2 separate regions of the Homo sapiens genome follow, and region 2 is linked to region 1. Evidence: fine-mapped expression QTL. A gene starts in region 1. The other region holds a variant in brackets. All regions are shown on one strand. Distances are between the middles of the regions. Region 1 holds the start of ZFR2 (zinc finger RNA binding protein 2). Region 2 overlaps ZFR2 (zinc finger RNA binding protein 2).

Evidence for each region. PIP is the estimated chance that this variant, and not a neighbour inherited with it, causes the effect.
Region 2: its variant is fine-mapped to the expression of ZFR2 in testis (GTEx, PIP above 0.99).

The regions. Positions count from the first base shown.
Region 1 is chr19:3,865,541-3,878,509 of GRCh38, forward strand. ZFR2 (zinc finger RNA binding protein 2) reads right to left here and starts at 3,498. Exons shown (of 19, transcript NM_015174.2): 1 at 3,425-3,498. The coding sequence starts at 3,477. It also overlaps the pseudogene FTLP5. RefSeq lists an enhancer at 5,585-6,084 and silencers at 11,411-11,705, 11,468-11,668.
Region 2 is chr19:3,824,515-3,832,514 of GRCh38, forward strand. ZFR2 (zinc finger RNA binding protein 2) reads right to left here. Exons shown (of 19, transcript NM_015174.2): 4 at 7,146-7,364; 5 at 6,789-7,042; 6 at 2,957-3,139; 7 at 716-893. Among named protein-coding and RNA genes, the nearest start is that of ZFR2, 41 kb to the right of the region's middle. RefSeq lists an enhancer at 6,739-7,328. The variant A/G (reference allele first, on the strand shown) is at 3,921.

The DNA of each region.
Region 1 (12,969 bases):
GGGGGAAAGGTCTCATCATTTTGCCCAGGCTAATGTCAAACTCCTGGGCTCAAGTGATCCTCCTGTCTTGGCCTTCGAAAGTGCTGGAGCGACAGGCATGAGCCACCATGCCTGGCCTGGTTATCAATTTTATAAGCTAAGAAAACCTACCCAAAACTCCTAAAAAATGAATTGCTGCCTTTGTTTTGGCAATTCTTGAAACAGGTGTTGTAAATACTGCTGTCCAAATGCTGCCATAAAATTGGTACACAAAATCTGGTATCTCATCAGTTTTCTCATGGCAGGTTATATAAACCATAGGTACTTTTTTGTTTGTTTGAGACAGTCTCACCCTGTCGCCCAGGCTGGAGTGCAGTAACGTGATGATCTCAGCTCACAGCAACCTCCACCTCCCGCGTTCAAGAGATTCTCCTGCCTCAGCCTCCCGAGTAACTGGGATTACAGGCGCGCGACACCACGCCCGGCTAATTTTTGTATTTTTAGGAGAGACAGGGTTTCACCATGTTGGCCAGGCTGGTCTCGAACTCCTGACCTCAAGCGATCCGCTTGCCTCGGCCTCCCAAAGTGCTGGGTTTACAGGCTGAGTCACCGCGCCTGGCCAAAACATACGTACTTTAAAAGCAGCCAAAGTTTCCAAACAAAAGTCATTTCCCACAAGAAAGAATGTCTAGTTAACCTAAAGTCATTCAAATAATGCCTATCATCTTGTTTCAAGGTTTTGTGAGAATGAAATGTATTTTGCTATGATTCCTGTGTTATTTTTAGTTAATAGCTTACTATTTTCTTAAGGAAGAACACATTCTCTCTGCGGCAATTCTAAGGACGGACTAACTCAACAACTCAACACCGGGTTGCGTGTATACTGTATCACCTAAGCCATCAGAACACAGAAGGTAGCTGTGCTAAAATGGGTTGCGTGTATACTGTATCACCTAAGCCATCAGAACACAGAAGGTAGCTGTGCTAAAATGTATAAGCACGTTAATTCAAATCAATGACAGAAGCCTCTACTGAAGCTTAGCAATCACCTATTTGAACAACATAAACATTCAATTTCTCCTCTGGAAGGTAATTTTAATAGCAAGCATAATATTCAAGTGATTTTCCACGTCTGATGGAAGAATACAATGGAGAAAGAAAGAAGAGAAAGAGAAAAGAAGGAAGAGCTAGCAGGCAGAGGGGTGGAGTGTGTCCAGAAGTTTGTACTAGCCTGGATCGCTAGCCAAGTCCAGCCGCTTTAACTGAGCCCTGGCAATCAAAACACCACTGAGGATGAAGGAAGCAAAAGAAAAGATCAAATAAAAATTAAATGCTCCATTCTGGGAAATCAGCAGGTCATAGATTCTTTCCCTAATAGGAAATCCATTACTAGTCAAATACTCCACCAGAGAAACCACTCCGAGTGCAGGAAACAGATGCACTCCTCATTCCCACAGCCCTGGTTTCCAAGCCCTGGGTGGTTTCTCTTTGTGATTCCATTAGAAAGGGCACAGCAATATCACAGCACTGGTGGAAGGGTCGGCACTGCCGCTCCACCGCGGGAAGCTGAAACACCAGCCTGGATCTCTCTTCCATGTGCTGAAATGCAGTAGGAACACCGCGGGGGGCAAAGACCCCCCTGAGCTCAGCAGAGGCCCCTCTATGAGGTGCCCAAGGGGTGGTTTGTATCTGTGGGGGCTCAGCAGGGACTGTGAGAAACAAGGTTATAGCAAGCTACCAGCTGGAAACTAACACAAGGGTGACACGCGGAAATGATCAACTGTTGGGGGGGGAATCTGGTCCCCTCAGAGATGCCAGCCCTGGCTCCCGGACTGGGACTCCAGTCTTGGGGGCAGATGGACGGGCTGAAGATAGCAGAGATGCTCCGAGGAGCAGGCCTGGGAGAACAGTGTAGAGTGTGTGTTTGTACACTTGGGGCACAAACTTACCCCGTGTGTGTCCCTACCCTCTGAGCCCTTCTGCCCCTGGCCAGTTCCCAGTGTGTCCCCATCCCCTGCCATCTCTCCTCCAGGATCCTTTCTCTCCCTCCCCTCCCAAACGACCACATATTTAAGACCTAGAAAAGGATCTTAAATATCACAACACTCAGGGCCCTTTCTCCCTCCTCACTGTCCCAGCAGGGTCCCAGTTCCCTGGAAACCCAGGTGCCCACCCTCTTATTTGACCTCAGGACCTCCTCCCACATAATACTGGCTTCCCGCCAAGTCTCTGTCCCCCTTCCCCAGTCAGGCCTCAGTTCCCCACCAACCTCGGTTTCCGCCCCTCCCTGGGGTAACCTCCCAGGTCTCTGTCTTCTCTCCTCCACCCCACATCAGGGGTCAGGTTCCCACCCCTACTCCACACCCCACCCCAGGTCTCTGCCCCTGCCTGCTAGGTACCCTCCCAGGTCTCTGCCTTCTCTCCTACCCCCACCATCAGGGGTCAGTGCCCTCCACACTCGAATGTTGCTGCCCCCTGCCCAGTCGGGAAACTTCCCAGGTCTCTGCCTTCTCCTCCTCCAGCAATCGGGGATTAACGCCCCTCTGCCCTTCCCCTCCTCCTGCCCAGCCAGACACCCTCCCAGGTCTGAATTCTCTCCCCCTACCAGCAATCGGGGTCAGCTCCGCTCTAGCTCTCCCCCTGTCCAGCCAGACACCCTCCCAGGTTTCTGTCTTCTCTCTTACCCCCATCAGGGGCCAATTCCTCACCCCTCGACTGTGGCTTCCTCCTGCCCAGCCAGGAACCCTCGCTGATCTCTGTTTTCTCCTCCCCTACAAGTAATCGGGGGTCAGCTACCCTCTGTCCATCCCCCTGCCCGGCCAGGCACCCTCCCAGGTCTGTGTCTTCTCCTCCCCCCGCAATCGGGGGTCAATGCCCCTCTGCCCTTCCCCTCCTCCTGCCCAGCCAGACACCCTCCTAGGTCTGTGTCTTCTCTTCCCCTACCAGCAATCAGGGGTCAGCTCCCCTCTGCCCATCCCCACCCACTCCCCGGCCAGGCACCTCCCAGGTCTCCTCCCTGCATTGGGTCAGTTCCGTCCCCTCCCCTCCTCGGTCAGACCACCCACCCCCCGCCCGGGTCTGTCCCCTCTCGCTGCCCTCCTCGTGGCGCCCCCATCAGGGGCTGACCCCCCCGACCCCGCACAGGCCCAGGCCCAAACCCAGGCCCCCTCCCACTTCAGGAGCCCCCTCCCGCTCCCGCCGACAGACACCGTTGGCTGCAGAGACGTCTCAGCCGGAGCCCCGGAGCCCGCATCCCGCCCGGTGCCTAACCTGAGGCCGCCCCGCCTGCTTCTCCCGGCGCCGCGGCTTCCCTCAGGCCGGGGTTCCAGGTTGGGGCTGGGACTGGGGCCGGGCCGGGCGCACGCGGCGGGAGAAGGGGTAGGCGGGGTCCCGGCCAGGCTGCAGGGGCCGGGACTGGCGGGGGCTGGCGCGGCGGGGCAGTTACCTGTACTGCGGGCCGCCGCCCTGCGCGAAGTCGAAATACTGACTCGTCGCCATCTTGGCGTCTTCCCCGAGCCTGGCGGACCCGCGACGTCACCCGCCCCGCCCCCGAGCCGCGTGCCGCTCGCGCCTGGCCACGCGCCCCAAGCTCCGCCCCCTGCGCGAAGCCCTCACCTTCTCGCTTCCTTCTCTTAGGCTAGGGAGACACCGCCCCGCGACCACACCTGCCCCGAGGCCCCGCCTCCTACGCAGAGCCCCGCCCTCCTCTTAACCACTCAAATGTGGAGGTCTCTGCTCAAGCCCCGCCCATGCTAGAAGCCCTGCCTCTTTCTCGGAGCCCCACATTCCCTTTAACCACTCAGATGTGGTGGTATCTGATCAAGTCCCGCCCATGCTACAAGCCCCGCCTCTTACTCAGAGCCCTGCCTTCCCTTTACCCACTCAGATGTGATCTCTGCTCAACCCCCACCCATGCCACAAGCCCCGCCTTTTTTTGGAACCGTACCTTCCCTTTAACCATTCAGGTGTGGAGGTCTCTGCTCAAGCCCCACCCATGCCACAAGCCCCGCCTCTTTCTCGGAGCCCCGCCTTCCCTTTACCTGCTCAGATATGGTCTCTGCACAAGCCCTACCTCTGTCTCCGAGCCCCACCTTCTCTTTAACCACTCAGATGTGGAGGTCTCTGCTCAAGCCCCACCACCACCACAGCCAGCTAATTTTTAAATTTTTTGTAGAGACAGTGTCTTGCTATGTTGCCCAGGCTGATGTTGAACTCCTGGCCTCAAATAATCTTGCCTTGGCCTCCAAAAGTGCTGGGATTACAGACGTGAGCCACTGCATCTAGCCTCAGAATGACTCTTCAGAAGGCCCCCATGGTCTCTGCCTCCTGTGTTCACAACGTGATATAAATAAATGATAGGCCGGGCACAGTGGCTCACGTCTGTAATCCCAACATTTTGAGAGGCGGAGGCAGGAGGATCTTGAGCCCTAGGACTTTGAGACTAGCCTGGGCAACATAGCAAGACCCTGTTTCTACAATTTTTTTTTAATTAGCTGGTCATGGTGGTACATGCCTGTGGTCCCAGCTACTCAGGAGGCTAAGGTGGGAGGATCACTTGAGCCTGGGCTGTCAAGGCTGCAGTGATCTGTGACTGTACCACTGCACTCCAGAGTGAGACCCTGTCTCAAAAAAGAGAAAAGAAAGAAAGGGCTGGGCGTGGTGGCTCACGCCTGTAATCCCAGCACTTTGGGAAGGCGAGGTGGGCAGCTCACCCAAGGTCAGGAGTTCAAGAGCAGCCTAGCCAACATGGCAAAACCCTGTCTCTACTAAAAATACAAAAAAAAAAATTAGCCAGGCGTGGTGGGGCACACCTGTAATCCCAGCTACTCGGGAGGCTGAGGCAGGAGAATTACCTAACCCAGGAGGTGGAGGATGCAGCGAGCCGAGATCACACCACTGTACTCCAGCCTGGGCAACAGAGCAATACACCGTCTCAAAAAAATAAAAAAATAAAAAATAAAAAAATAAATAAATAAATAATAAAAGAGGAGAGGGAGAGGAGCAGGGAGGGAGGGAAGGGAAGGAAAGAAGAGAGAGAGAGAGAGAGAGAGAAAGAATTGAATGAATAAACAAATAAATGGAGGCAAACAGACAAATCTCTTATGCAGAAGAATTCCTAATTTGTGTAGCTACACTGCGCTTAAGGAGATAGAGAGTAACTCTACACCTCTTGAGTGTGGGTTGTGCATAGTGACTTCCTTCCCAAGACTGCAGCCTGGAAGGAGGGGGAGGGAGAGTCACTTGACAGTATTGAAACCTGACAAGCAGCAGCGTGTTTGGCGGTCCCGCGGATCCGTCTCTTGCTTCCACAGTGTTTGGATGGAACAGATCCGGGAACTCACTTCCAGCCTCCGACCACCCGCTGATTTCCTCTCTTCTTGCAACCTCCAGGAGCATCGGCTCAGCCATCTCCTGCTTCTCGGACCAACCAACGCCGTTTTTTTGGTTAGCTCCTTCTTGCCGACCAACCATGAGCTCCCAGATTCGTCAGAATTATTCCACCGCGGTGGAGGCAGCCGTCAACCGCCTGGTCAGTTTGCACCTGCGGGCCTCCTACACCTCCTCCCTCTGCGGGTTTTTTTTTTTTTTTTTTTGCTTGTTTTTTTTTTGAGACGGAGTCTGGCTCTGTCGCCCAGGCTGGAGTGCAGTGGTGCGATCTCTGCTCACTGCAAGCTCCGCCTCCTAGGTTCACGCCATTCTCCCGCCTCAGCCTCCCGAGTAGCTGGGACTACAGGCGCCCACCACCACGCCTGGCTAATTTTTTTGTATTTTTAGTAGAGACGGGGTTTCACCGTGTTAGCCAGGATGGTCTCGATCTCCCGACCTCATGATCCGCCTGCCTCGGCCTCCCAAAGTGCTGGGATTACAGGCGTGAGCCATCGTCTGCGCTTCTATTTCGATCACCAAGATGTGGCTCCGGAATGCGGGGCTTACTTCTTCCATGAATTGGCCAAGGAGAAGCGCAAGGGTGTTGAGCGTCTCCTGAAGATGCAAAACCAGCGTGGTGGCCCTGCTGTCTTCCAGGACATCCTGAAGCCAGGTCAAGATGAGTGGGGTAAAACCCTGGAAGCCATGGAAGCCGCCATGGCCCCGGGGAAAAATCTCAACCAGAGTCTTTTGGATCTTCATGCACTGGGTTCCGCCCCTACAGACCCCCATCTCTGTGACTTCCTGGAGAGTCACTTCCGAGATGAGGAAGTGGGCTGCACGCGGTGGCTCACACCTGTAATCCCTGCACTTTGGGAGACCGAGGCAGGCAGATCACCTGAGGTCAGGAGTTTGAGACCAGCCTGGCCAACATGGCGAAACTCCAGTTCTTCTAAAAATACAAAAATTAGCCGGGCGTGGTGAGCTACTCAAGAGGCTGAGGCATGAGAATCGCTTGAACCCAAGAGGCAGGGGATGCAGTGAGCCGAGATCACGCTACTGCACTCCAGCCTGGGGAATAGAGTGAGGCTCTCCAAAAAAAAAAGAAGAAGAAGATGGGTGACCACCTGACCAACCTCCACAGGCTGGCCGGCCCGGAAGCTGGGGGGCCCAGAGGCTGGGCTGCATGAGTATCTCTTAGAAAAGCCGACTCTCAAACACGGCTAGGAACCTACTGAGCCCAGCGACTTCTGAAGGGCCCCACGTAAAGTAACGGGGCTTCTGCCTAAGCCTTTCCCTCCATTCACTAGGCAGCTTTTTTGTTTATTTGTTTGTTGGTTTGTTTTGTTTTGTTTTGAGAAGGAATCTCGCTCTGTCGCTGGAGTGCAATAGCACAATTTCAGCTCACTGCAACCTCCGCCTCCCAGGCTTTGGCGATCCTCCAACCTCAGCCTCCCGAGTAGCTGGGATTACTGGCATGCGCCACCACACCCGGCTAATTTTTGTATTTTTAGTAGAGACGGGGTTTCACCATGTTGGCCAGGCTGGTATCAAACTCCTGAGCTCAGGTGATCCACCCGCCTCGGTCTCCCAAAGTGCTGGGATTATAGGCGTGAGCCACTGCGCCTGGCTTTGTTATAGCACCCTGAACAGACTAAGACGCCCACTTTGAACACTAGATTCCAAAAAGCATCATAGAAGTCTTGGGCTTCTGTTAGATAGGCATGGTGGCAGGTGCCTGTGGTCCCAGCTACTCAGGAGGCTGAGGCGGGAGGATCACTTGAGCCCAGGAGGCAGAGGTTACAGTGAGCCAAGATCTCACCACTGCACTCCAGCCTGGGTGACAGAGCCAGACCCCCGTCTCAAAACAAACAAACAAACAAAAAACATAAAAGGGGCCTGGCGCAGTGGCTCATGCCTGTAATCCCAGCACTTTGGGAGGCTGAGGCGGGCGGATCACCTGAGGTCACGAGTTCAAGACGAGCCTGGTCAACATGGTGAAACCCTGTCTCTACTAAAAAATACAAAAATTAGCCAGGCAAGGTGGCGGGTGACTGTAGTCCCAGCTACTCGGGAGGCCAAGGCAGGAGAATTGCTTGAACCTGGGAGGCAGATGTTGCAGTGAGCCGAGATCGCGCCACTGCACTCCAGCCCAGGTGACGGAGTGAGACTCAGTCTCAAAACAAAACAAAACAAACAAAAAAGGAAGTCTTGGGTCTTGGGCATCTATGAACTTTTGCTTTGCTGAAGTCTTTCAAATCAGTTGGCTTTTTGACAATGGAGTATTACGAGAGCATTAAAGTAAGAAGTGCATTCAGCAGATACAGGGCTACTAATTCTTGGACAGGCTCCATGGAGAGCCCAGGGTGCTGAGGGAAGCCACATTTGGTGATTTAGCGGATGGCACTCTTCCATCTGTAACTCCATGACCATGTGTGGCCACCAGGAATGGTCTGGTGGGTCTGGCCAGTGCAGCTCTCCCTGCCATGCCCTGGCTAAAGTCCAACAAGGTAATTAATTGCACACGGCCTCTCTCCAAGTCCCTGCCGTTCTAATTAGGTAATGAAGGCTGTGTCTCTTTACAAAGGATCTGTTGTAGTGTTTTCTCTGGGTTGCATTTTTTCTATTATTTACTGCAAGGATTGTGCTAAATGCTTTACATGCAAAATGTGATCTAGTTCCCACAACAGCCTTCAGAAGGCCGGGCATGGTGGCTTACACCTGTAATCCCAGCACTTTGGGAGGCCGAGGTTGGGAGTTCAAGACCAGCCTGGCTAACATAGTGAAACCCTGTCTCTATTAAAAATACAAAAAAATTAGCTGGGCGTGGTGGTAGTTGCCTATAATCCCAGCTACTCAGGAGGCTGAGGCAGGAGAACTGCTTGAACCTGGAGGGCAGAGGTTGCAGTGAGTTGAGATCACACCACTGCACTCCAGCCTGGGTGAAAGAGTGAAACTCTGTCTCAAAACAAAAAAAAAACCAAAAAAAAAAAAAACAGCCTTCAGAAGTAGAAACAGGCATAGTGGCTCATACCAGTAACCCCAGCTACTTCGGAGGCCAAGGCAGGAGGATTGCTTGAGCCCAGGAGTTTGAGACCAGTCTGGGCAACATAGGGAGACCCCATCTCTACAAAATACAAAAATTAGCTGGATGTGGTTGTGTGTGCCTGTAGTCCTAGCCACTTAGGAGGCTGAGGTGGGAGGATCGCTTGAGCCCAGGAGGTGGAGGCTGCAGTGAGCCATAAGTGTACCACTGCATTCCAGTCTGGGTGACACAGCAAGACCCAGTCTAAAAAAAAAGAAAGAAAGAAAAGAAAAGAAAAAAGAGGCCAGGCGTGGTGGCTCACACCTATAATCCCAGCACTTTGGGAGGCCAAGGCAGGCAGATCATGAGGTCAGGAGATGGAGACCATCCTGGCTAACACAGTGAAACCCCGTCTCTACTAAAAATACAAAAAAATTAGCAAGGCATGGTGGCACCTGTAGTCCCAGCTACTCGGGAGGCTGAGGCAGAAGAATGGCATGAACCCGGGAGGCGGAGCTTGCAGTGAGCCGAGATTGCACCACTGCACTCCAGCCTGGGCGACACAGCAAGACTCCGTCCCCCAAAAAAAAAAAAAAAAGAAGTAGACACAGTCGATTCTCATTAATTCTGTTCTCTAAAGTCAATACCAAGCTCACTAATACTGACCATCGCTCCTAAGAGAAACACGAGGTTGAGTTCCTGTGAGCCTCTAGTCACAGTGTTTGCATCAACCATCAATACACGACCTCGGCCAGTGCAGTGGCTCACGCCTGTAATCCCAGCACTTTGAGAGGATGAGGAGGGCGGATCAACTGAGGTCAGGAGTTCGAGACCCGCCTGACCAACATCTCTACTAAAAATACAAAATTCGCCAGGAGTGGTGGTGCATGCCTGTAATCTCAGCTACTCAGGAGGCTGAGGCAGGAGAATCACTTTAACCCAGGACGTGGAGGTTGCAGTGAGCTGAGATTGCGTCATTGCACTCCAACCTGGGCAATAAGAGCGAAACTCCGTCTCAAAAAAAAAAAAAAAGAAAAAAAAGAAAGTTCAAATGTCTAGCCAACCGGGATTAGTTCAGATTGTGTGACCCGACCCCGGCCAATGGGGAAAGGGCACAGGGGCAGGACTTGCCTCAGGAATAAAGGCTCTCATGCCCCTTTGTTCAGGTGCGCTCTCATGACGACTGGACAAAGAAAAACACCTCTCTGCGCAGAAGTAAAATTGCTTTGCTAAAATCCCTTTGTTTGTGTATTCAATCTTCTTAGGATTTTGAGCGTTATTCCCAACAAATAGACATGGTTGATTCATTCACATTGAACTCATAGCACTTTTACTCATATCTGAAGTTCTCTAACACACTGCTTTTCTTCTTGGAGCTTTCTTTTTTTTTTTTTTTGAGATGGAGTCTTGCTCTGTTGCCCAGGCCAGACTGAAGTGGCGCGATCTTGGCTCACTGCAAGCTCCGCCTCCCGGGTTCACGCCATTCTCCTGCCTCAGCCTCCCGAGTAGCTGGGACCACAGGCGCCCGCCACCACGCCCGGCTAATTTTTTGTATTTTTAGTAGAGACGGGGTATTGCCGTGTTAGCCAGGCTGGTCTCGATGTCCTGACCTTGTGATCCGCCCACCTCAGCCTCCCAAAGTGCTGGGATTACAGGCGTGAGCCACCGCGCCCGGCCTCTCCTTGGAGCTTTCTTGCACTTAGGAAGACTAGACAGTGCTTCAGCATGAAGCTTGGAAGTCATTTTATTTTATGGATTTATTTATTTATTTTTGAGACAGAGTCTTGCTCTTTCACCCAGGCTGGAGTGCAGTGGCGCAGTCTCAGCTCACTGCAACCTCCGCCTCCCTGGTTCAAGCAATTCTCCTGCCTCAGCCTCCTGAATAGCTGGGATTGCAGGCGCGTGCCACCACGCCCGGCTAATTTTTGTATTTTTAGTACAGACGGGGTTTCACCATGTTGGCCAGGCTGGTCTTGAACTTCTGACCTCCTGACCACCCACTTTGGCCTCCCAAAGTGCTGGGATTATACGCGTGAGCCACATTGCCTGGCCTGTATCAAGCATTCTTTTAGGGCAGAATTTTTCTTGCTCAGTACCGTGGACATTGGGACCAGATTATTCTCTGGGGCGGAGCCATCCTGGGCACTGCAGGGTGCTGAGCAGCGTCCCTGGCCCCCATCCACTCCATAACAGGAGTATCCCCCAGTCGCAACAAACACAAGTGTCCCCAGAAATCGTCCGGTGTCCGCTGCGGGCAGGATCACCACCCCCCCAGGTGACAGCCACTGGTGTAGGGGTTAAAGATACAGGGTGACAGGCCGGGATTACACCTGTAATCCCAGCACTGAGCCCAGCACTCCTGGCCTCAAGTGATCCACCCGCCTCAGACTCCCAAAGTGCTGGGATTACAGGTGTGAGCCACTGCACCCAGCCCACAAGAAAATTTTCTACAAGCTCACCTTCAGAAAAGTTTCAAGATCCTACAAAATCTAGCCCTTTTGTGCATTTCCAAACGAATTCCTCAGGGATGGCCGGCAGAATAATGGCCCCTAAAGATATCCACACCCACTGGGTGTGGTATGTTTGCCTGGGAAAAATAGTGAGACCCCATCTCTACAAAAAATTGTCAAATTAACCAAGTGTGATGGCATACACCTGTAGTCCCAGCTGCCAGGGAGGCTGAGATAGGAGGATCACTTGAGCCCAGGAGGTTGAGGCTGCAGTGAGCCATGATCACACCCCCGCACTCCAGCCTGGGCTACAGAGCAAGAACCTGTCTCAAAAAAATTAAATTAAATTAAAATTTTTCCATTTTAAAATTAAAATAAAACGAAATGAAAACAGACAGAGGCCAGCTGCAGTGGCTCACACCTGTGATCACAGCACTTTGGGAGGCCAAGGTAAGCGGATCACCTGAGGTCAGGAGTTTGAGACCAGCCTGGCCAACATGGTGAAACCCCGTCTCTACTAAAAATACAAAAATTAGCCTGGCGTGGTGGTGGGTGCCTGTAATCCCAGCTACTCGGGAGGCTGAGGCAGAAAAATCGCCTGAACCTGGGAGGTAGAGGTTGCAGTGAGCCGAGATCGCACCAGCCTGGGTGACAGAGCAAGCCTCTGTCTCAAAGGGAAAAAAAAACAGGGAACCAAGCTTAGGTCACACGCTGTGGCTCCTCGGTGGTGGCTGTAGCACCATGGACAGCTCCCAGGCTTTGGTGGACTGGGGAGAAGCTGTTGCTCTTTAAATGCCAGTCTGGGCAGGCCTGTCTGTCCAGAATATGCCTTCCTCCCTCTTTTTTATTCATCTAACTCCACTCACTCCTCAGGGGTCTCACTCATGCAGTCGCCACCTCTGTGCCCCACCAGGAAACCTCCCCAACGGTCCCCCAACCTGCACCACTCCAAAGATGTCTCTAGATCAGCCCAGACTCTGTTGTCCACCTGTTTCTCTCAACTGAATGGGAATTATTTATTTTTTTTTTTTTTGAGATGGAGTCTCACTCTGTCACCCCACCTGGAATGCAGTGGCTCAATCTGGGCTCACTGCAACCTCCACCTCCCGGGTTCAAGCGATTCTCCTGCCTCAGTCTCCCGAGTAGCTGGAATTACAGGCGCCCACCGCCACGTCTGACCAATTTTTGTATTTTTAGTAGAGGCGGGGTTTCACCATGTTGTCCAGGCTGGTCTCAAACCCCCAACCTCAAGTTATCTGCCCGCCTCAGCCTCCCAAAGTGCTGAGATTACAGGTGTGAGCGGCCTCCCAAAGTGCTGGGATTACATGCCTGGCCTCAACTGAATGGTCATTCTAAGAGAATTCCCAATCCTGCACACAAAAACAGCATAAATTAACTGAATTAGGGAAGCCACGCCTCTGCCAGCCGTGAGCTGGGAAGAAGCAGATACCTCAGAGGCAGGGAGCGCAGGCGGGTGATGATGAGAGGGGCCACAGCCGCAGCCCCACGCAGGGGAGCCCACCACTAACCCTGCACCCCCACCCCTGCACAAAAGAGCTGGTGGGCACTAGCCATATCGCCTTGCAACCTTCCTCGGATGCAGAATCCACTCCTTCAGGCATCCTCTTCCTCCAATGCTCTGAAGGCCTGGGGAGCCTGAGAGATGCCCGCTGCACCCAGGCAGGGCTCGCCTTTGTTTGCCAGTAATGGGAATTACTCATATCTTGTGCCCAGTGCCCAGCACAGGGACTCATCGAATCCACCCCTCAGTTAACACAAGTGTCTCTTACAAGACCTCCATTTTCTCCAGCCAGGAGATGGGAAGTCCCAACCTTGTGCTAAAGTCTCTGGGGCCTCTGCTTCCCCATCAGGGCTTTCTGCCTCTGCTGTGGGCAGGTTACCTTTATGCCTCGGAAGAGTGCAGACCTCCATGCAGCGGGTGAGGCTGCCAGCCTAGGTGGGGTGTCATTGAATGTCATGAAGGGAGCCAGCCTTCATGCACTCTGCCTGCGTCTCCTGAACAGCTTTGGACCAGGAGTTGCTACCTTGTGCGGAGAACGTGTGGTGCATAAGAACAACCGAGCCTCTGCTCTTCGAAAATGTATATTCTGGCCAGGTGCGGTGGCTCACGCCTGTAATCCCAACACT
Region 2 (8,000 bases), 44 kb before region 1:
GAGCCCAATTTGTTCACCGTGAGCACCAGGGCATGCAGGGGAGCACAGTGGAGGTGGCAGCCCAGGGAACCCTGTAGGTGCAGGGTGAGGGCTTCCAGAGAACCCCAGCACCCGGCACCAGGCCAGATTCTACCAGAAGAGGCCGGGCGCAGTGGCTTACGCCTGTGATCCCAGCACTTTGGAATGCCGAGGCTGGTGGATCACTTGAGGTCAGGAGTTCGAGACCAGCCTGGCCAACATGGTGAAACCCTGTCTCTACGAAAAATACAAAAATTAGCCGGGCGTGGTGGTGCATGCCTATAGTCCCAGCTACTCAGGAGGCTGAGGCAGGAGAATCGCTTGAACCCAGGAGGCAGAGGTTGCAGTGAGCTGAGATCGCACCACTGCACTCCAGCCTGGAGGACAGAGCGAGGCTCCATCTCAAACCAAAACAAAACAAAAAAACTCTACAGGAAGAAATGGCATTACCATTTTATTGGTTCTGCCAGCACTCTCTGGAAATGGTCTCAAAGGGTCTCCAAGGTTCAGGGCGGTGTGGGCCAGTGGGAGGCCATCTTGCTCTGCAGGAATAAGGGAGAGACGGCACCAGCCAGCCCCTCACCACCCCCCGGGAAGACATGACGAAAATCGACTGGATGGTAGATTTTCTCACGAAACTTTCACTAGGCGGCCAGGGCTCTGGTGGGTACACGAACACGCATACAGACACACGTACCCTCGCATAAGGCCTTCGAGGCCACGGGTCTCTTGGCCAGCGCTGGCCTGCTCGAGGCACACACGCTGGGGCCAGTGGGGGACGTGGGCTTGGCCTCTGCCCCGGGGGGGCTCTCTGTGGCCAGTGCAGGCTCGAGGGTGGGAATGGGCTTCCCCAGTTTGGCGTGCAGCTTGAAGACCTGCAACAGACAGAGCCGGGCTCCCGCGTGAGGGCCGCTCCCAGCCTGATGGCCTTTTTCAAGAGGCAGGAAGGGCCTCCACGGGCGTGCAGCGCGAGTGTGGGCTGGCCGGTCCCAGGGACCCCCCTCTCTTCTCTCCTCCTGCTCTCTGGATAACACCCACTCCAGAAGGCCCTTCCCAGGTGGCCTCCTGCCTTGCACACGTGCTTGTGACTTCTCTAGCACGGTGACACTCCTCTAGTGTGTGAGCACGTGGCTCACCGGCTCACACGGACGCTCTTCCTCCTCCTCCACCACGTGGGCTGCCAGGTGGGGCCGTTTCTCAGCCTCCCAAGCCCCAGCCTAGTGCTCCCTGACTGCCCGGGACTCAGCATGTGTGGATGGATGGTGGGTGTGCACGTGTCCCTGGACGGACACCCACGTTCTGCACGCACGTGTGCACATGGTCACGTCCGTATTCTGGCCGTGCCCCATTCTCAGCACCTCTAGGTACAAGGTGTTTCTGGCAAAGGTTCCGTGTGCACAGGGCCACTGTGTGTGTGCTGGGGACCATCTCAGACACACTTCCCAGCTCTGTCTCTGACACGCTGTACCCTGGTACAAGACCTGCCCTGTACCCCCCAACCCCACAACGGGCAGCAGGGCCTGCCTGACCCCCAGACTGAGCCCCAGCCTGTGGGGGTGACACCTGCAGCTCTGCCCCACCGGCCCCTAGCTCTCCGGTCCCCAGGCCAAGTCTCCTTCCCCCGTTTCTCTGCCCCGCTCCTTCCCTCCTCCATGCCTCCCTGCTCATTCCTCTTTCCCCTGTGGGTTCACACGGGCCCTCAGCAAGCTGTCCTGAGCCGAGCCAGGGAATGAGGCCCTGGATGAGCCTCCAGGCAGCTGGGGGAGAGAAGCCAGGTCCTCAGCCAGGCCTCTCAGGGTGGCTCAGCCTGACAGCCCGGGCTACAGCACAAGCCAGCTGTCCCCTCCCTGCTCTCAGGTGGGGACTCCATCCCCTCCCCGCCGAACATGACGAAACCCAGGCCTCTTTTTTTTTTCTTTTGGCGACAGAGCCTTGCTCTGTCGCCCAGGCTGGAGTGCGGTGGCGAGATCTCAGCTCACTGCAACCTCCACCTACCGGGTTCAAGCAATTCTCCTGCCTTAGCCTCCTGAGTAGCTGAGATTACAGGCACGCACCCACCACGCCCGGCTAATTTTTGTATTTTTCAGTAGAGACGGGGTTTCACCATGTTGGCCAGGCTGGTCTCAGGCTCCCAACCTCATGCGATCCACTCGCCTCGGCCTCCCAAAGTGCCGGGATTACAGGCGTGAGGCACCACGCCCGGCCTGACCCAGACCTTACTAAGGCCTCAGGAGAACAGTGATACTACAGCAGGGAGTGTGAAGAGCAAGACCTCAAAGGGAACACAGCATTGGGTCTCATCACAGGGCAAGCCCTGTCTGTCACCACGCCCGAATGCCAAGCTTTCTTGGAAGTCCGGGTGTGAGTGTCTCGGCCACTTCATGTTTTTGTGCAATGAGCAGGAACCCTTTTTATAAGTGGAAAGGAGTCCCCGCACGGTGGCTCACGCCTGTAATCCCGGCACTTTGGGAGGCTGAGGCGGGCAGATCACTTGAGGTCAGGAGTTCGAGACCAGCCTGGCCAACATGGTGAAACCCCGTCTCTACTGAAAACACAAAAATTAGCCGGGTGCGGTGGCGGATGCCTGTGATCCCAGCTACTCAGGAGGCTGAGGCATGAGAATTGCTTGAACCCAGGAGGCAGAGGTTGCAGTGAGCCGAGATTGTGCCCCTGCATCCCAGCCTGGGGAACAGGACGAGACTTTGTCCCCATTAAAAAAAATAATAAAATGAAAACTAAAATAAAATAACTGGAAAGGAGTTTGGATCCTTGAAGATGAGGACGCATGGGCCTGGGCGGCTGGCCCTTGGGGCGCGCTCCACTTGGGGAGGCTTCTCCCAGCTCCCTCTGATCTCCCCAGGTACCTCTGTGGGTCCCAAGTGCTGACCTGGGGGCCTTCTCCCCAGGGTGGCAGAGCCTGGGCCGGGCGGGGCCGTACCTTCTGGTGCTTGGATCCCCGGATGTGGGCCGCGTAGGCGTCCGCCCCGGTGCAGGACACGGCGCACAGGTCGCAATGCAGCTGCGCCTGCACCCCGCGCGGGCTCCCGTTGGGCTGCACGCCTGTCTTCTGGGCCGCCTCCTTCTTTCTGTGCTTCTGCCCTCCCAGATGTTCCCGGTAGGTCTGCGGCAAGGGGTGAGAGGCAGCCTGGGCGGGGGTTTGCACACTGGCCACTGTCCCCTCCCCTGCAGGCCCCCGGCTTAGCGCGAGGGAACTCGGTGGTAACAGAGGCCCGCTGTCCCCAACCCTCCATTCCCTGGTGCCATGGAGGTTCCAGTGTCCCTTTATTTTTCTTATTTTTATTTTTTGAGATGGAGTCTCGCTCTGTTGCCCAGGCTGGAGTGCAGTGGCACGATCTCAGCTCACTGCAACCTCTGCCTCCTGGGTTCAAGTGATTCTCCCGCCTCAGCCTCCTAAGTACCTGGGACTACAGGCGGGTGCCACCACACCCGGCTAATTTTTGTATTTTTAGTAGAGACGGGGTTTCACTCTGTTGGCCAAGCTGGTCTCGAACTCCTGACCTCAAGTATCTACCTGCTTTGGCCTCCCAAAGTGCTGGGATGACAGGAGCGCACCACCGCGCCCAGCCTATCTTCTTACTATAGACGTCTCAAATTTTTTTTTTTTTTTTCGAGACAGGGTCTCACTCTGTCACCCAGGCTGGAGTGCAGTGGCGTGATCTCAGCTCACTGCAACCTCCACCTCCTGGGTTCAAGCGATTCTCCCGCCTCAGCCTCCCAAGTAGCTGGGACTACAGGTGCACACCACCACGCGTAGCTAATTCAAGTGTCCCTTTATGAAGCCCACGTAACAAACCCACAGGCTCAGACTGCTAGACATAAGGTTTCTTCCTTCTTCTGGAATTCAAGGAGTTTCTTTGGAAAGCATGCTCCATGCATCACAC[A/G]TTCCTTTTGGGGGCTGCTGTATACAGAAAATTCTGACTTCAGAATTCAACGTCAGAAACCAAGCAAGGGCACCTGCTGCCCGAAGGATAGTCACGTACACTTCCATCTTAGGAAACTGCTAATAGACACAGGGGCTCCACCCGGGGGAAGCCACCGTGAGTCACAGGCCTACGCATCCGGTACTACTGGGCCCAAAATATCTGATTGCGTCTGGGGAAGCGACAGCCAAGCCCTTAGGCAGAATCCTGGGTGTGCTGCTTGAAATCCTCAAATGAAGCCGGCCACAGACAAGACGTGGCAGGAGGGCCACGAAACCAACACGCCCTGACAATGCCAAGAATAAACATTCTGCAGACTGAAAAATGCCCCTGAAAATACTGGGGCACAGTGGGCACTGCCCCGTCACCTGCAGGCCACCGGCTTGGCACACAAGAACTCAGAGACATTGTCTGGTTTTAGGGAAGAAAAATAGGACGTGGGAGAGGCATACATTTTACTGTATGCATGCTCTCTGGAACTTAGGAATCTTTTTTTTTTTTTTTTTAAGACGGAGTCTTGCTCTGTTGCCCAGGCTGGAGTGCAGTGGCGCGATCTCAGCTCACTGCAGCCGCCGCCTCCCAGGTTCACGCCATTCTCCTGCCTCAGCCTCCCAAGTAGCTGGGACTACAGGCGTCTGCCACCACGCCTGGCTAATTTTTGTATTTTTAGTAGAGACGGGGTTTCACCATGTTGGCCAGGCTGGTGTTGAACTCCTGACCTCAGGCGATCCTCCCACCTCAGCCTCCCAAAGTGCTGGGATTACAGGTGTGAGCTACCACGCCCAGCCTGGAATTTAGCAGTCTTGAACCTCATAAATATATTACCTAAGCAATAGAATAAATACGCATCCCTGTGCACACATACTAACTTAGAAAGAGAGACTGCCTGTGGAATAGAGAAGACTCTGGAAGGATACACACCAAGATGCTACCGCTAAATCATTTCAGGGTGGAGGGATTATGGGGGACTATAGGTAGGTTTGTGTGTGTGTGTGTGTGTGTGTGTGTTTTGTTGTTGTTGTTGTTGTTGGTTTTTGGGGGGTTTTGTTTTTTTGTGGACAAAGGGTCTCGCCCTGTCGCCCAGGCTGGGGTGCAGTAGCGTGATCATAGCTCACTGCAGCCTTGGACTCCTGGGCTCAAACGATCCTCCCACCTCAGCCTTCAAAGTGGCCAGGACTATAGGTGCGTACCACCATGCCCAGCTAATTTTTAAATTTTTTTTAGAGACAGGGTTTCACCCATGTTGCCCAGGCTGGTCTCGAACTCCTGGGCTCAAGCGATCTACCGGCTTCGGCCTCCCAAGGTGCTGGGATTACAGGCATGAGGCACTGCACCCAGCCAGTAGGCTGTCTTTGTGCACTTTTGGCGTATACTGCAGTAATTAGCCACGTGGGCTTCAACACATCTTGGTTTGATTTCTGCCTGGGTCACTAAAACTGACTCTGAGTTCCTCAAAGTACTGACCCTTTCTGAGCCTCTGGGATTTTATCTGCCACACAGAGATGGTAGCCACAAGGCAGATATAAGGATTAAATAACCCACACGGGCCTGGCGCAGGGACTCAGCTTGTCATCCTGGCACTATGGGAGGCTGAGGCAGAAGAATTCCTTGAGCTTAGGAGTTCGAGACCAGCCTGGGCAACATAGTGAGACCCTGTATCTACAAAAAAATTTTTTTTTAAATAGCCAGGCATGGTGGTGTGCACCTGTAATCCCAGCTACTCAGGAGGCTGAGGTAGGAGGATCGCTTGGGCCCAGGAGTTCGAGACTGGACCTGGGCGACATAGTGAGACCCCATCTCTATTGAAAATTTAAAAAATTAGCTGGGCATGGTGGTTCGTACCTGTCTCAGCTACTTGGAAGGCTGAGGGGAGGATCACTTGAACCCAGGAGGTGGAGGCTGTAGCGAGCTGTGATTGTACCACTGCACCCTAGCCTGAGCAACAGAGCGAGACTTTGTCTCCAAAAGAAACTCAAACTTCTATGCGAGCACTCTGCAAAGAAGGCCGGGGTCTCTCCCAGCATGAGACACAGTGGAGAGCTGCTGGAGGAAAGAGTCTGAGACAGGGAAAGGGTGATCTGGGGCGGGAGGGGTCCTGAGCAGGGACCGGCCCCCCATCCCCAGCTGGGTCAGGGGTCCTGATAACGGTGTCCTGAGCCTTCTCACACCTCTCCAGAGTCTGCGATTGCAGACTCCGTGTCTCTCCGCGGTCCAGAGCTTCCTTTCAGAGTATTAAAAACAAAAGAAGATCAGGGTGTGTGTTTTGCAAAGACAGAGCTCTAGGGTCTAATTATCTTTCCAGGAATTGAGCCCACGATCTCAGCTGGGTGATTTGCAAGCTTTAAAATCTCAAGCTCGTGTGTTTGGTAAAGATTCTTTCACGTATGTCCCAAACAAGCACTGCCAAGCACAAGCACGCATGCACACACACACACGGGCGCATGCACACACATACACATGCAGGCATACATGCGCACACATACACACACGCACACACATGCACACACATACACACACGCTTGCACACACAGGCACATGCAGGCACACATGCGCACACATACGTGCAAGCACACATACATGCACACTCACGTTTGCACACACATATGCACACATATACACATGCATAAACACACGCACACATACACACTCACACTTGCACACACACACAAGCGCTTGCACACACAGGCCATGCATACAACATGCAAGTTAACACCAGACCTTCTTTCAGCAGGCAGCGACCCTGACCACCCCACCGGCGCCCACATTCGGGTTCAGACGTTGGGGACAGAGAGGTCCCTGGGGCCTGCCCATGGCAGGAGGGCGACTGACCTGGGGGCCAGCGCAGCTGATCTTGCAGATGTCGCAGTAGTGAAGCTGGAGCTGCCTGGGCCCCGCCTTGGGTCTCGGCAGCTTGCTGGGAAGCGGTGGCTTCGAGTCGGCCCTGGGGCTGCTTCCTGAGCCTGCAGGCGCGGGCGGCGGGGGCAGCTGCTGCGGGGGTCCCGGGGGAGGCGGGGGCTGCGCTGGAGGATAGAAAGGGCTGGCAGCGGAGTACACCGACGCGTCATAGTTCGGGTAGCTTGGTGCTGAGCAGCAGAGAAAACAATGAGTCGGGGGGAGATGCTGATTCCACTGAGTTGAAGTGGGGACCGACGGGCAGACCACCTGGGCAAGGAACGCTGGTCTTACCCGTGTAGGCGGTGCAGGTGGGGTTGTAGGAGGGCGGGGGGTAGGAGGTCACGATGGAAGCTGACGACTCGGGCTGGACGCCTGTCGCCGTGGGGTAGGTGTATCCCGAGGACAAGGTGCTCGCTGGCTGTCCGGACTCCACTATGGGCGCCTGCTGTGGGGGCTGAGCGTGGCTGTGACTGCCATGGGGGCTGGGCTGCCCGCAGGCTTCTTGGGTCCCTAGGGGACAGGGACAGGCCCTCTGCAGAGCCAACCCCCACCCCACTGTCCCTCACCTGCAGATGGGCCCTGGACTCAACTGGCTGGAACACGCTAGATGCTTAAGCCAGGACCAGAGGCCAGAGCCTTGGGCCAGGTGCTGGCAGCGACTCGCAGGTTACCTTGTGCCCACCTCTCCTTTCCAGAGCCCGGCTTCTCTCTCCTGCCATGGGGGAGGAGGGCTGTGGGTGCCCTAGACAAGCTCCTCTGCATCTCCAGCTCCATCACCCACAGAGCTCACCTCCTGCCACCCCGGGAAAGCTTCCTTGGAAAAAATGTTAGCTGCATTTTCAGTCCTCACTTTCCTTCATTCATAGGCCCACACCTGGCAGAGATCCCAGGGCCCATCTGAGCAGCCAGCTCTGAGGCTCACCTGCAAATCTAGGATGTTTTTATTATCATTATTATTATTTTTTTTTTTTTGAGTCGGAGTCTTGCTTTGTCACCAGGTTGGAATGCAGTGGCATGATCTCGGCTCACTGCAACCTCCACCTTCCAGGTTCAAGTGATTCTCCTGCCTCAGCCTCCCGAATAGCTGGGATTACAAGCATGCGCCACCCTGCCCGGCTAATTTTTCTATTTTTAGTAGAGATGGGG